4 separate regions of the Homo sapiens genome follow, and regions 2, 3 and 4 are each linked to region 1. The links come from fine-mapping of genetic effects on gene expression. A gene starts in region 1. Each other region holds a variant in brackets. All regions are shown on one strand. Distances are from middle to middle. Region 1 holds the start of GLCE (glucuronic acid epimerase). Region 2 overlaps PAQR5-DT (PAQR5 divergent transcript). Region 3 overlaps PAQR5 (progestin and adipoQ receptor family member 5). Region 4 has its middle 38 kb from the start of EWSAT1.

What was found. PIP is the estimated chance that this variant, and not a neighbour inherited with it, causes the effect. A credible set is the group of variants that fine-mapping cannot tell apart.
Region 2: its variant is the best candidate, but not a certain one, in a credible set for the expression of GLCE in esophagus muscle (GTEx, PIP 0.82).
Region 3: its variant is the best candidate, but not a certain one, in a credible set for the expression of GLCE in whole blood (INTERVAL, PIP 0.84).
Region 4: its variant is the best candidate, but not a certain one, in a credible set for the expression of GLCE in subcutaneous fat (FUSION, PIP 0.64).

The regions. Positions count from the first base shown.
Region 1 is chr15:69,159,343-69,162,028 of GRCh38, reverse strand. It overlaps GLCE (glucuronic acid epimerase), which reads right to left and starts at 1,394. Exons shown (of 5, transcript NM_015554.3): 1 at 1,272-1,394. It also overlaps the pseudogene LOC100421574. RefSeq lists silencers at 1,015-1,124, 1,325-1,534 and an enhancer at 1,232-1,732.
Region 2 is chr15:69,289,833-69,292,518 of GRCh38, reverse strand. The region is part of intron 1 of PAQR5-DT (PAQR5 divergent transcript); the gene reads left to right. Among named protein-coding and RNA genes, the nearest start is that of PAQR5-DT, 7.6 kb to the left of the region's middle. The variant G/A (reference allele first, on the strand shown) is at 1,424.
Region 3 is chr15:69,380,221-69,382,906 of GRCh38, reverse strand. The region is part of intron 4 of PAQR5 (progestin and adipoQ receptor family member 5); the gene reads right to left. Among named protein-coding and RNA genes, the nearest start is that of KIF23, 33 kb to the left of the region's middle. RefSeq lists a silencer at 1,237-1,418. The variant G/A (reference allele first, on the strand shown) is at 1,108.
Region 4 is chr15:69,117,732-69,120,417 of GRCh38, reverse strand. No RefSeq gene overlaps it. Among named protein-coding and RNA genes, the nearest start is that of EWSAT1, 38 kb to the right of the region's middle. RefSeq lists enhancers at 1-757, 2,327-2,686. The variant A/G (reference allele first, on the strand shown) is at 1,442.

The DNA.
Region 1 (2,686 bases):
CGCTTCCCTGCACTATCCGACTCTGCCTAACATTCACTCAGGCAAGACTTCAGAACAGATCTAATCATGCAGGATGAGCAAAGCAGACCACCACCTAGGAAAGCAAGCCAAAATCAGTCTTCCCCACCCTCAACAGATTCCAGTTGCTCAGGAGCTGTATCCACGCTCAACCTGCGGACACCGGCCTCCTAAAGAACCTGCAGACCAAACGCCCACCTAAGGTGCTGCCACTCTAGCTCCCGGAGCTCCAGCGAGACCAGCGCGCCCCCACAGGGATCCCGGGGCAGAGAAAAGAAAACTGCAGAACAAACGCACTGCTTCTTCAACTAGGCAACAACACCGATCAATCCTCCAACTAAGCATTGAGTAAATCTCATCCAGAGAGAAGGAGACCTGAACAAAAACGTTTCAGGATGCTGCCCAGCCTGCGCGGTAGCACCAAAGCCCTCTCCCGCCCTCAGCGGACCCAGCGCCTGCGGAGCCGCGCCCACCCCGAGAGACTGCCCGGGGGCCAGCTAACTCGCCCCGTCGCCCCCAAAAGACTGGAGACCATGCCAAGTTACCGCCCCGCTCCGGGCAAAGCAGAAACCCCGGCCAGACGCTGGTCGCCGCTACACACCCTCAGCCCCCAACAACCCCCCAAGGCGGCCCCGGCCCCAGCGGAACGGATACATCGCTCTCTCACCCGGAGACACCGATGAACAGACCCCTCTCCCCAGAACCCGGACACACTGCTTCTTCATCCCAGCAATGCGAAACGGACGCCCACGCCCGCTCAAAGAACCCCCAAGACCCCGATGATCTGCCTCCAGAGACAAGGTTTACACCGGTGTAAACCTTGCTAAACTGCATTCTCTGCCCCAAAGAGCTCGGGACCCGGGTAAAAAGACCCCTTGTCCCGGAACCCCGCTACACCACCTCCAAGAAGCTCAAGACCCTGATAAATCTCCCTCGACGTCAAAGACCTAGGACCCCGTGTGCCGCCACCCACCCCTACCCCAAGCCGGAAGAGCCCCCAGGATCCCTAATACATTGCCCCCTCACCTCGGGAGCTCCGGCACCCGCTACACCGCCCTTGGGCGCCCGCGCCCGGATCCCACTGCACCGCCTCCTCGCCCCCCGGACTCCCAAACCCCGCCAAGCCTCGCGCCCACCAGGCAGCGCCGCGCAGCCCCCAGAGCCGCCCCCGTCAGGAGCCCGCCTGCTCCGGCTGCTCCGTGTCCCCGCTCCCCGACCGCTCCTCAGCGGAGACGCGCTCCGGGCTTTCTAACCTGAGCAGCGTCGGAGGGCGAGCAGACACGGGAGCCCTGAGGAAGAGAAGGAGACAGCAGAGAAGGGGTGGCTCAGGCCTGCGGTGCCGCAGCTCCAGCCTCTCGGCAAGGAAGCGCTTGTGTGAGGAGAGCCCTCCCGCTCCGCGCGCAGCCGGGAGACCGAGCCACCGCCGTGCCCGCAGCTCTTCCCGCGAGATCCCAGCCACGGCAAGGGGCGGGGCCACGGCGGGGGGCGGTAGCGGCAGCTCCTCGAGTGACAGTCCTGGCAGCCTGTCGGCTGCAGGACGGGCGGCAGGACTCGGAGTCTACTACGACCAATTGTAAAAAAGGAAAGGTGATTCTCCCCGCCCCTTCTCCGCCCCTCTTCTTCTCCGCTCCTCCTTAATAAACTGTGAGCAAAGGTAGTAGTGACCAGAAGTAGTAGGAGGCAGTGGACTTTCGCGGTAAGGTAGCTCGAATGACGTGACGTGCTTGGCTTGTGTGTGGTCCTGCTAGGCCGCCGTAGATACACCTGGTTTGGGGAAGAGGCTGGTCTTCACACCGGTGTAAACCGAGGTGCGGTTACCCTTGGTTACAGCGCTGCCCGAAGTGCGCTGGGGATTCCCATCTTCCAGGTTGAAGGCCCACCCACTCCGGTTACCCGCGTCTAAACCTCCATTTAATTCCTTTCCCCGATTTGGGCCTCTCCTCCCTCTCCACCTCAAACAGGGCACCATTGTTAAGATGCCCATGTTTTCCAAACCCCAACCCAGGACATCTGGTCTGACAAAGAACTCGTCTGATGACTGTATTTATTTCTACATACAGCCTTCCAGAAGAATGAAAAGCAAATCTCGAGTTACCAACATAACAAATTCCAAAATTAATGAAAAGTCGTACCTTTATAGACCCCAGTGCCCAGTAGTATTTGGCACACCCAGGGCACTGAATAATGTGAAAGGAATGAATTAAGACTGTTAAATATATGCAAATCTCGAGTTACCAACATAACAAATTCCAACATTACATGAAAAGTCGTACCTTTGTAGACCCCAGTGCCCAGTAGTATTTGGCACACCCAGGGCACTGAATAAGGTGAAAGGAATGAATTAAGACTGTTATACTTAAATATATTAAATCTGGACCTGGCCCCAGAAAATTCGGCTTTCCTAGCCTTTCCTCTATAATGTGAGCCAGTGGCTTCACCCTTAAATCCAGGCTCTTCATTATTATGCCTATCCTGTACCTTCATTCATCTTACCCTCTTCACTCCCTCACCCACAGCAAGAAGTGCCCTTTCTCCTCAAGGTTAAATCTTGCACCTGTGCCCTGGATCCCAGCCATTCCCAGATTTTATTCAGCTATTCTTTCTTTCCCCATTATTAATTTCTTCCTCTAACCTAAATCTTTCTCCCACAAACATAGTCTCGCCCATC
Region 2 (2,686 bases), 130 kb before region 1:
TGGTGTTCGGTGCAAATTGCATTGCGCTGGAGCCCAGCTATGAGAAAATTGTGTATGTATGAATGAGAGATGGAGGGGAATTGCAAAAGTAAAAAGAAAACCAATGCCCATTTACTAGGTTTGGGGGATTGTAATTTTTTTTTATTTGTGGTGGTGTTATAATATTGTTTGTGCAATAAATATTTTATATGAAGAAATAATAATGATAATAATTTCTTGTACATCCAGAGAAGCCTCTTGAATGCACCTATTCCAGCACAGGTGTACCTGAGCATGGATCCTCACATGGACTGTCTTTCTGGAGTGTTTGCATTTGAAAGAAGCCTACACTGCAGCCAGGGTGACAGCTATTTTATTTTATTTATTTATTTATTTTTGAGTCAGAGTCTCGCTCTGTCACCCAGGCTGGAATGCAGCGGCATGATCTCCTGGCTCACTGCAACCTCTGCCTCCTGGGTTCAAGCGATTGTCGTGCCTCAGCCTCCCAAGTAGCTGAGACAAAAGGCGCTCACCCAGAGGCCTGGCTGATTTATTTTTTGTATTTTCAGTAGAGACAGGGTTTCACCATGTTGGCCAGGCTGGTCTCAAACTCCTAACCTCAAGTGATCCTCCCGCCTTGGCCTCCCAAAGTGCCGGGATTACAGGCGTGAGCCACCATGCCCGGCCGGTGACAGCTATTTTATTATGGGCAAGGAAAGGCCCTGAGCTCACCACCCGTAGCTGACCCCTTCCCCACACAGCCACCCACAGGACCACCAGCCTTCCTAGCTCAGTGCACTCTCCTTTGTGCAATGCAGGAAGGGGCAGACAGTCGTGCAGAGCTTACAGGCAACTCAGGCTCCAAGCCTCACTTTCTCTGGGCGGTATTTTACTCCATATTAAGAATATCTGGGCTGGTGCGGTGGCTCATGCCTATAATCCCAGCACTTTGGGAGGCCAAGGTGGGTGGATCGCCTGAGGTCAGGAGTTTGAAACTAGCCTGGCCAACATGGTGAAACCCTGTCTCTACCAAAAATACCAAAATTAGCTGGGTGTGGTGGTATGCGCCTGTAATCCCAGCTACTCGGAGGCTGAGGTAGGAGAATCACTCGTACCGGGGAGGCGGAGGTCACAGTGAGCCGAAATCATGCCATTGCACTCCAGCCTGGGTGACAGAGTGAGACCCCATCTCAAAAAAAAAAAAAAAAAAAGGATTATCTGTAGGGTCAGATGGGGATACTTTGAAAGAGTAAGAAGGGGGCCAAGGGGCCACAGCTTGTATGAGAGCTGAACCCAGGTGGTCTCAGCCAAGGGCACAGGCCTTCTACCTTCTGTTTCTGGGTCTTCCCCCTGAGATTGGGGAGGAGAGAGGTGACCAGCCGCTCTCCTGAGCCTCCTCTGCAGCAGGCTGGAGGGCTATGGACTCTTCTAGGGCTGAGACAGG[G/A]TGCTGACTCCAGGGAGGAGGGGGCTGGCACTGGGCCTGGGGCTTTCTTAACATCTGGGTGTGGACGTTTTGAAGTTGTGTTCTCAGGAAAGGCTTGAGGAAGCCTTGCTGTGTTCTCTGTTCCCACCCAGCTCAAAAGACGTAGGAAGTTCTCCCTGGCTGCTCTCCTGGGGCCTGGGCTGGACTTGCTGGCTGTGGGGCAGCTCAGGGCAGGCCAAAGAACCCTATGACATACCCAGTCTGCTCAGGGTGTGGAAGTCAGATTTACACAAAACATTCCATGGGAAGGGAAGGCTTCACTTTGATAAGAGGATTTAAAGTGATAATAACAGCCAATGTTTACCAAGCTCTTGCTACAAGCTAGGTGCCAAGAGCTTTGCAGGATCAGTATCTCATGTGGTACTCACCAAACTCCATGTCTATCACCATCCCATTTTATAGATTGGAAAGTTGAGGCTGTGACGTCTACAAGATCACACAGCTGGATCTCAAATCAGGACTGGCCCAAAGTTTGTGTTCTCAGTTGCTGTCTCCCGCTCTGAGGCCCACTGGCCCCCAGCCATGGCAAGCCTGGGCGTGAATTACCCAGTAGGTTTCACACGGTTCTTAGTACCACTTCTCTTAGTAATCAGAGAGTACATTTAGATTTTCAAAAATTAAATATAGATATAATTCTTCCTTGAACATATATGCTCTGAATTCACCACCACATATATCCTATAGCTAATGTTCAAAACAGGACTCCTATTCACTTCAACCAGCCAATCTGGAGGCTCTTACAGGATCGTGCCTTTGAGGCAAAAATGGTGAATATTCAGATAATGTGGGGAGCAGGCATTTTGTCCACTGTTCTTTTGGGAAATATAGAGTACTTCTAGTCCATTTCATACATTAAACCAGAAGGGACCACGGAAATCTATTAGCTATTCTAGGAACAGTAAGATCCTAAAAGGGCAAGTGACTTGCTTGTCACTTCAGGAATTAAAGGCTGACCTTGCATTCATTGCCACCTGTCCCGCTGGGGTTTCTTCCTCCTTAAACATTTTTGTGCAGTTATTTTGGGGGCAGTTTCTGACACTTGTATTAGAGAGTCCCTTTGGGTCCAGCTTGTCTCACACCTACCCTACGCAGTTTATTTTGGTTCTGTTGTAAAAATCCAAGTGTAAAAGCTTCCATCTAACACCCCCATCTGATGAGCCATGTGGATTATCCTGGGCTCCAGTGACAGTAGCAGCCACTGGGAATCTACTAAAGCAGTGTTTG
Region 3 (2,686 bases), 220 kb before region 1:
ATCTCCATTTGATTGGCCTTAGTTCCCTCCACCAGGATCATAGAAAACAAGCTTAACATATGCATATATATATATATATATATATATATATATATATATATATATGGTCATATATATATATATATATATGGTCACATATATATACACATATATATACACACATATATATATACACATATACATACATATATACATACATACATATATATATATATATATATATATATATATATATATATATATATATGCTTTTTTTTTTTTTTGAGACAGAGTCTTGCTCTGTCACCAGGCTGGAGTGCAGTGGCACGATCTCGGCTCTCTGCAACCTCTGCCTCCTGGGTTCAAGTGATTCTCCTGTCTCAGCCTCCCAAGTAGCTGGGACTACAGGCACCCTCCACCACGCCTGGCTAACTTTTGTATTTTTAGTAGAGACAGCGTTTCACCATGTTGGCCAGGATGGTCTCGATCTCCTGACCTTGTGGTCTGCCTGCCTCAGCCTCCCAGAGTACTGGGATTATAGGCATAAGCCACTGCGCCCGGCCGCCTGTCAAATATTTCAAGGCAGTCTTTCTAACCCCCTCCCACCTCCTTGAACTTCACATTAAATACTCCCGGTTCCTTCAGCCATTCCTCGCAGGATCTAAATGTGGCGTTACCACCATCCCCGTGGTTTGTCCTTCCTCCATGTAGTTTGTCTATGTCCCTCTTGTAGGAAGGCTCCTCAAATAGAAGCAATGCCCCAGGTGGAGCCTTGCAAGCCGAGGCCAAGAGAACTATTTTCTCCCTCCTCCTCCACACTGTTCCTCCACTAAGAGTACAATCACTTTTCGGAATAGCTAGTCCCACAGCTGACTCTTAGCAGAGCCTAGATCTCTATGCAGAGACACTTCAAAATTCTTCACCAGGTCTGCCTGGCCTACAATCCACGCATGAGGTCCCGCCTGCAGAGCACCTCGCTTCCACAAATCACTCCTAGAGAGCTGGCTCCCTTTCTCACTAACTCCTCCAAGGGAGGAGACTCTACAAAGCTTTTCATATGCAGGAGCTGAAGGAACATTGCTAAATCCTTCCAGCTACACTTGTGGACTTTTTAATTTTGTCCCAGCG[G/A]GAAGTAAAGCTTAAGCTATTTGCTGTTTCTCAAAATGTATCCTTCAGTTATTTCAATTTTTCAGTGGTCCCATTTCCTTAGGGCATCTTGATCCAGACCTCCCCAAGTCCTTCCTGCTACTCTCTGTTGCTCAGTCAGGATCATCTCTGAGAGCCTGGCACCGTGTAGAAGTGCATAGGCAGTGCTGGAGGTGATGGGGGTGCGGCTCACCCAGCTTGGCTCAGCTGTAACATAGCAAAAAATCACCCTACAGGGATCCATGCATGGAGTGCAAGACCCACAAGCAGGGATGGACAGGCTGGTACCCTTTTAGCAGCTCAAATCTCAAAACAGCCTAAATCAACCATGATTCATCCAGAAAATGGAACACCAAGCAGATGTTCCAAAGTCCAGGAGACATGCAGATTGCAGATGCTGACAGAGTGAGATCTCCAAGGGAGGGAAGTAAGAGGAAGGCAGCAGGGAAAGAGGCAGATGCTGTGGATGCTCACAGCACAGATGCTCCTGGGTCCCCCAGAAAAGCTCCAGGAGGACGCATAGGAAGCAGGTCCCCCTGGCCACTCCAGGGAGGAGAACTGGGGCCAGTGGCAGAGCCTGACTCTATTCCCTTCTGAAGGGTTATAATTTGTAAGCATGTATACTTTTAAAAATGACAAATGGCCCCTGGAGCAGGGCTGTGCTGCCACCCCTGCCCAGTCCGCAGGCCCAGGGCTGCCACACTCCTTTACAGATCACCCTAGTCCACACCAGACTGAGCTCTCTCCCCTCTCCACTGAGCTGGCTGCTGGAACCAAACAGCCTGCCCCTGCATTTTGGCCCCGGGTCTGTCATCTGACTTCTACTCAGGCTGGCTGCCCCTGTGCGGGGAGCCTGGGCCCATCTCCACTCATGGCACACTCCTCATCTCTTCTCAACATGACTGGAGGGAGTCCAGTGACCAGCCTGTGCCACGGCGCCCCTGCATGACGTAAGGACGCCACCCCGTCTCTCGGCTGTGTCTACATCGACCAGTGGTGGTCTGAGTGGGACAGTGGCTTGAATGGCCTCTGAGTTCTTCCAGCTCAGATCCACTGTGATTTGGTGCTTTGACCCTGTCTCCATCCTCCATTCCTTAAGCAAAGGTGTGCAGTGTGTGACATTGGCCTTCATCCCCCACCTTTCTCAGCAAGGCCCCTCTTCGCTTCCCTGGCCACTTCCATTTCTGCATACAGGCTTCCCAGAGCTTTGCTCTTAGCTGGCTCCATCTACAGGCTGCCTGACCAAGTGCCTCCCAGTTGTCGTGGTTCCCAGAATGATTACGGAACACCCACAACTCTGTGGCAGATGCCTCTACCAATGTTTTCTCCCCAAACCCTCACAGCAACCCTTGGGGAGGTGCGGACCATCACTCCTGCTTTGCAGGTAGGAAAATGAGAGGCTCAGAGAGGTTGACTTGCTCAAACTAGTGACATTTTAACCAGGGCTCCTGGAAGACCTGGAAAGTCTCCAAGACCGGAGATGAAGGTAAATGCTATCATATCAGGCACCGGAGCAGGGAGCAGGAAGGACTGAGGCACTTTTGGGATTTCCCCTCAAATC
Region 4 (2,686 bases), 42 kb after region 1:
CCCAGGCACAAAGCCTGCTGTGCTTAATGGAAACGTGGGCCCTGCCCTGCCCCTTCCATTAAACACTGAATGTATGCACTGCTGCCTGTTTTTCAAAGGGCTTTCACAGGTATGGAAGGAGGCTAGATTATTAGGAAGAAAAAAGATCTAGCTGATTAATAATGTAAAACACCTGCAAGCCTCACAGACGTCCAGCTGGGAAACACACAAAAGCAGCAATTGATATCCAAAATAGCCACGGAGTTAGAGCTCAGGCTCCCCTGGGGTGCTCGATTCCTTTAAGTCCCACCCACCCCTGGGTTCCCAACACTCACCCCACCCTGATGAAACCATCTTCAAGATCTTTCTGGTTCACAGTGTGTCACTGCACTGTGTCTGGTGCTACTACAGAGGGAGTTCTCTTCTCCCTCCTGGAGAGTACACTATTATCAGATTAAGAAGGCTGTGCCTTGTGACTGGGGACAGCTCCAACGTTCCAGAATGATACTGGGAGGCTGTGTTCAATTAAGAGGCTAAGTTACTCTCTCTGTGGGAGCCTTTGAAGATCCCAGGTAATGGCTTCTATAATTCTACTCAGGTAATTGCAAGAGTCACAGCCTGTCTTTTTGCCTTCAGGCAGGAAGCAACTAGAGCAGAGATGGCAAATGTGGCTTGCACATGCTTTCAGGACCCTGCCCACATTGGAGCAGACATTTCCACACTGTCACATGCTGTCTGCCAAGACTGCAGTCAGCTGCCTTGGGATTCTTCACAAACTGACAATGCAGTGTACCTGGGGCACCTCTGAATCCACCCACATTCGTAGGTGAGACCTATTAGCCATCCCCGATCTCAACCATTCCCTTCAGTCTTTACTCCTCCCACTCTTTTTGTAGCTTTAAAGAAATATATTCATAAGAAATCCAAATAGCACTGTACATGTTTAACCCTTGAAATAACGAGCATATATATGTATATGTGTGTCTGTGCGTGTGTGTGTGTATAAAACGCTGTCCCTATTTTACAAAGGCAGAAAGTGAGGCTCGAAGAGTTTAAATATTTAACCCAGAATATAACAACTAACAAATGGTAGAGCTGGGATTTGAATCCAGACTGACTAACCCAAGCCCAGAACACAGCTTAATGGAGATGAAAATTCTCATAGGGATTAAGCCCTTACATAAATGATGAAACACTGACTCTGAAATTCCTGGCAATGGAGAGATAGGGAAATGGGGGTAGAATTGCCCCAGAGCCATATGATGTGAGCCTTCCTAGTGAGACTGAGATCTTAATTTGCTCTGCCATCAAAGGCTCAAGACATCATGTGAAGGCTTTAAAAGAAAGGGAAGCATGCTGTTCTGGGGCACACACATCTGTTTCTCCTTCTCTTAAGACGCTCTCTGCTTCCTGCCTGTTGGCTGTGTCTGAGCAAGGGTCAGGTCACCATGGTGGCCTCTGT[A/G]CCAACTGTCAGCTCTCTTCTTAACCCTAAAGATCCTGAGTTGCCATAAAGCTCACCATTTGCATATTTCCACCAGTCATCTCCCTGCAGGGAAACTTCAGACCTTTAAGTCATGCACCTGAAAAGGTTAGAATGAGGTAGGAGGAAGGTAAGCAAAGAATCAGCCCTACCCACCATCTGGAAAGGGTGGTGGTGAGACTGGGCCACAGGTTATGAGACCCTGGTCTTAGGACCACCCCCTGCAAAATGGAAGAAACCAGATGAGTTGAGTCTAGGGGAGCTCCTTATTCTCATTTCTCCTCCCCTTTCTGTGTCTTGACATCTCATCCACTTCTAGCCCCTTTCTTTCCTGGTCCATGCCTTTATGATACATGAATCCCCACCTCTGGTACCTTCCCTTCTACCATATGCCAATCAGCATAGACCTCTTCTCTATCAGAGAGGATGTAGGGGTGAGTTGGAGAGAGCAACTGCTCACTCTTTAAGCGCCTATTATGTGCAAAGTACTTTCTATATCTCATTTCATCTTCAGCCCTGTGAGTTGGTTGCACAAGCTGAATTTTGCAGTGGAGCAAAGGAAAGCTGAAAAGATGAAGTAATTTGCCCAGGGCCACAGAGGGAGAAGGAGGAGCTAGGAGTCGATGCCAGGTTGTCTGACTGCTCTACACCAGACAAGACATTCCCTCCCCTCCCCTGTCCCTGTCCCTTTCTGCACCTCCTCACAGTCCATCAAGCTGAGCAGTAAATCAGAGCTATAATGCTGATGAGTACCCCCCTCCTGGGTGACGTGCCCTTCTGTGGGGTTACTAAGGCGTCAGAATCACCCACAGGGCCAGTTAAACACAGATACTCCCTCCTCCAGATTCTGATTCAGGGGGTCTGCGGTGGGGGCCCAAGAATTTGCATTTCTAATAAACTCCCAAGTCATGCAGATGCTGCTGGGGATGGGATGGGGCAGAGACAGACCTCACTTTGAGAACCACTGCTCCAAATGTAAAAAGATTGAGTCTCCAATGATGGCATTCTCAGGTTTATAGCAGGAAAATATTTGGAGCTCAAGAGATTTTTCCAGAGACCCTGAAATTACATCAAGCAGGCAGCCGCCTCCTCATCCCCAGGCAGGCTGCTTTTCTCAAGTCTTTGTTCTTCAAGGTGAGCCAGAGAATGTGTTCTGTAACTTGATCTTTGGAGAAGGGAACCTCAGTGCTTGTGTCTCTAGTGCTGGTCTTGCTGTGCCGAGGGCCA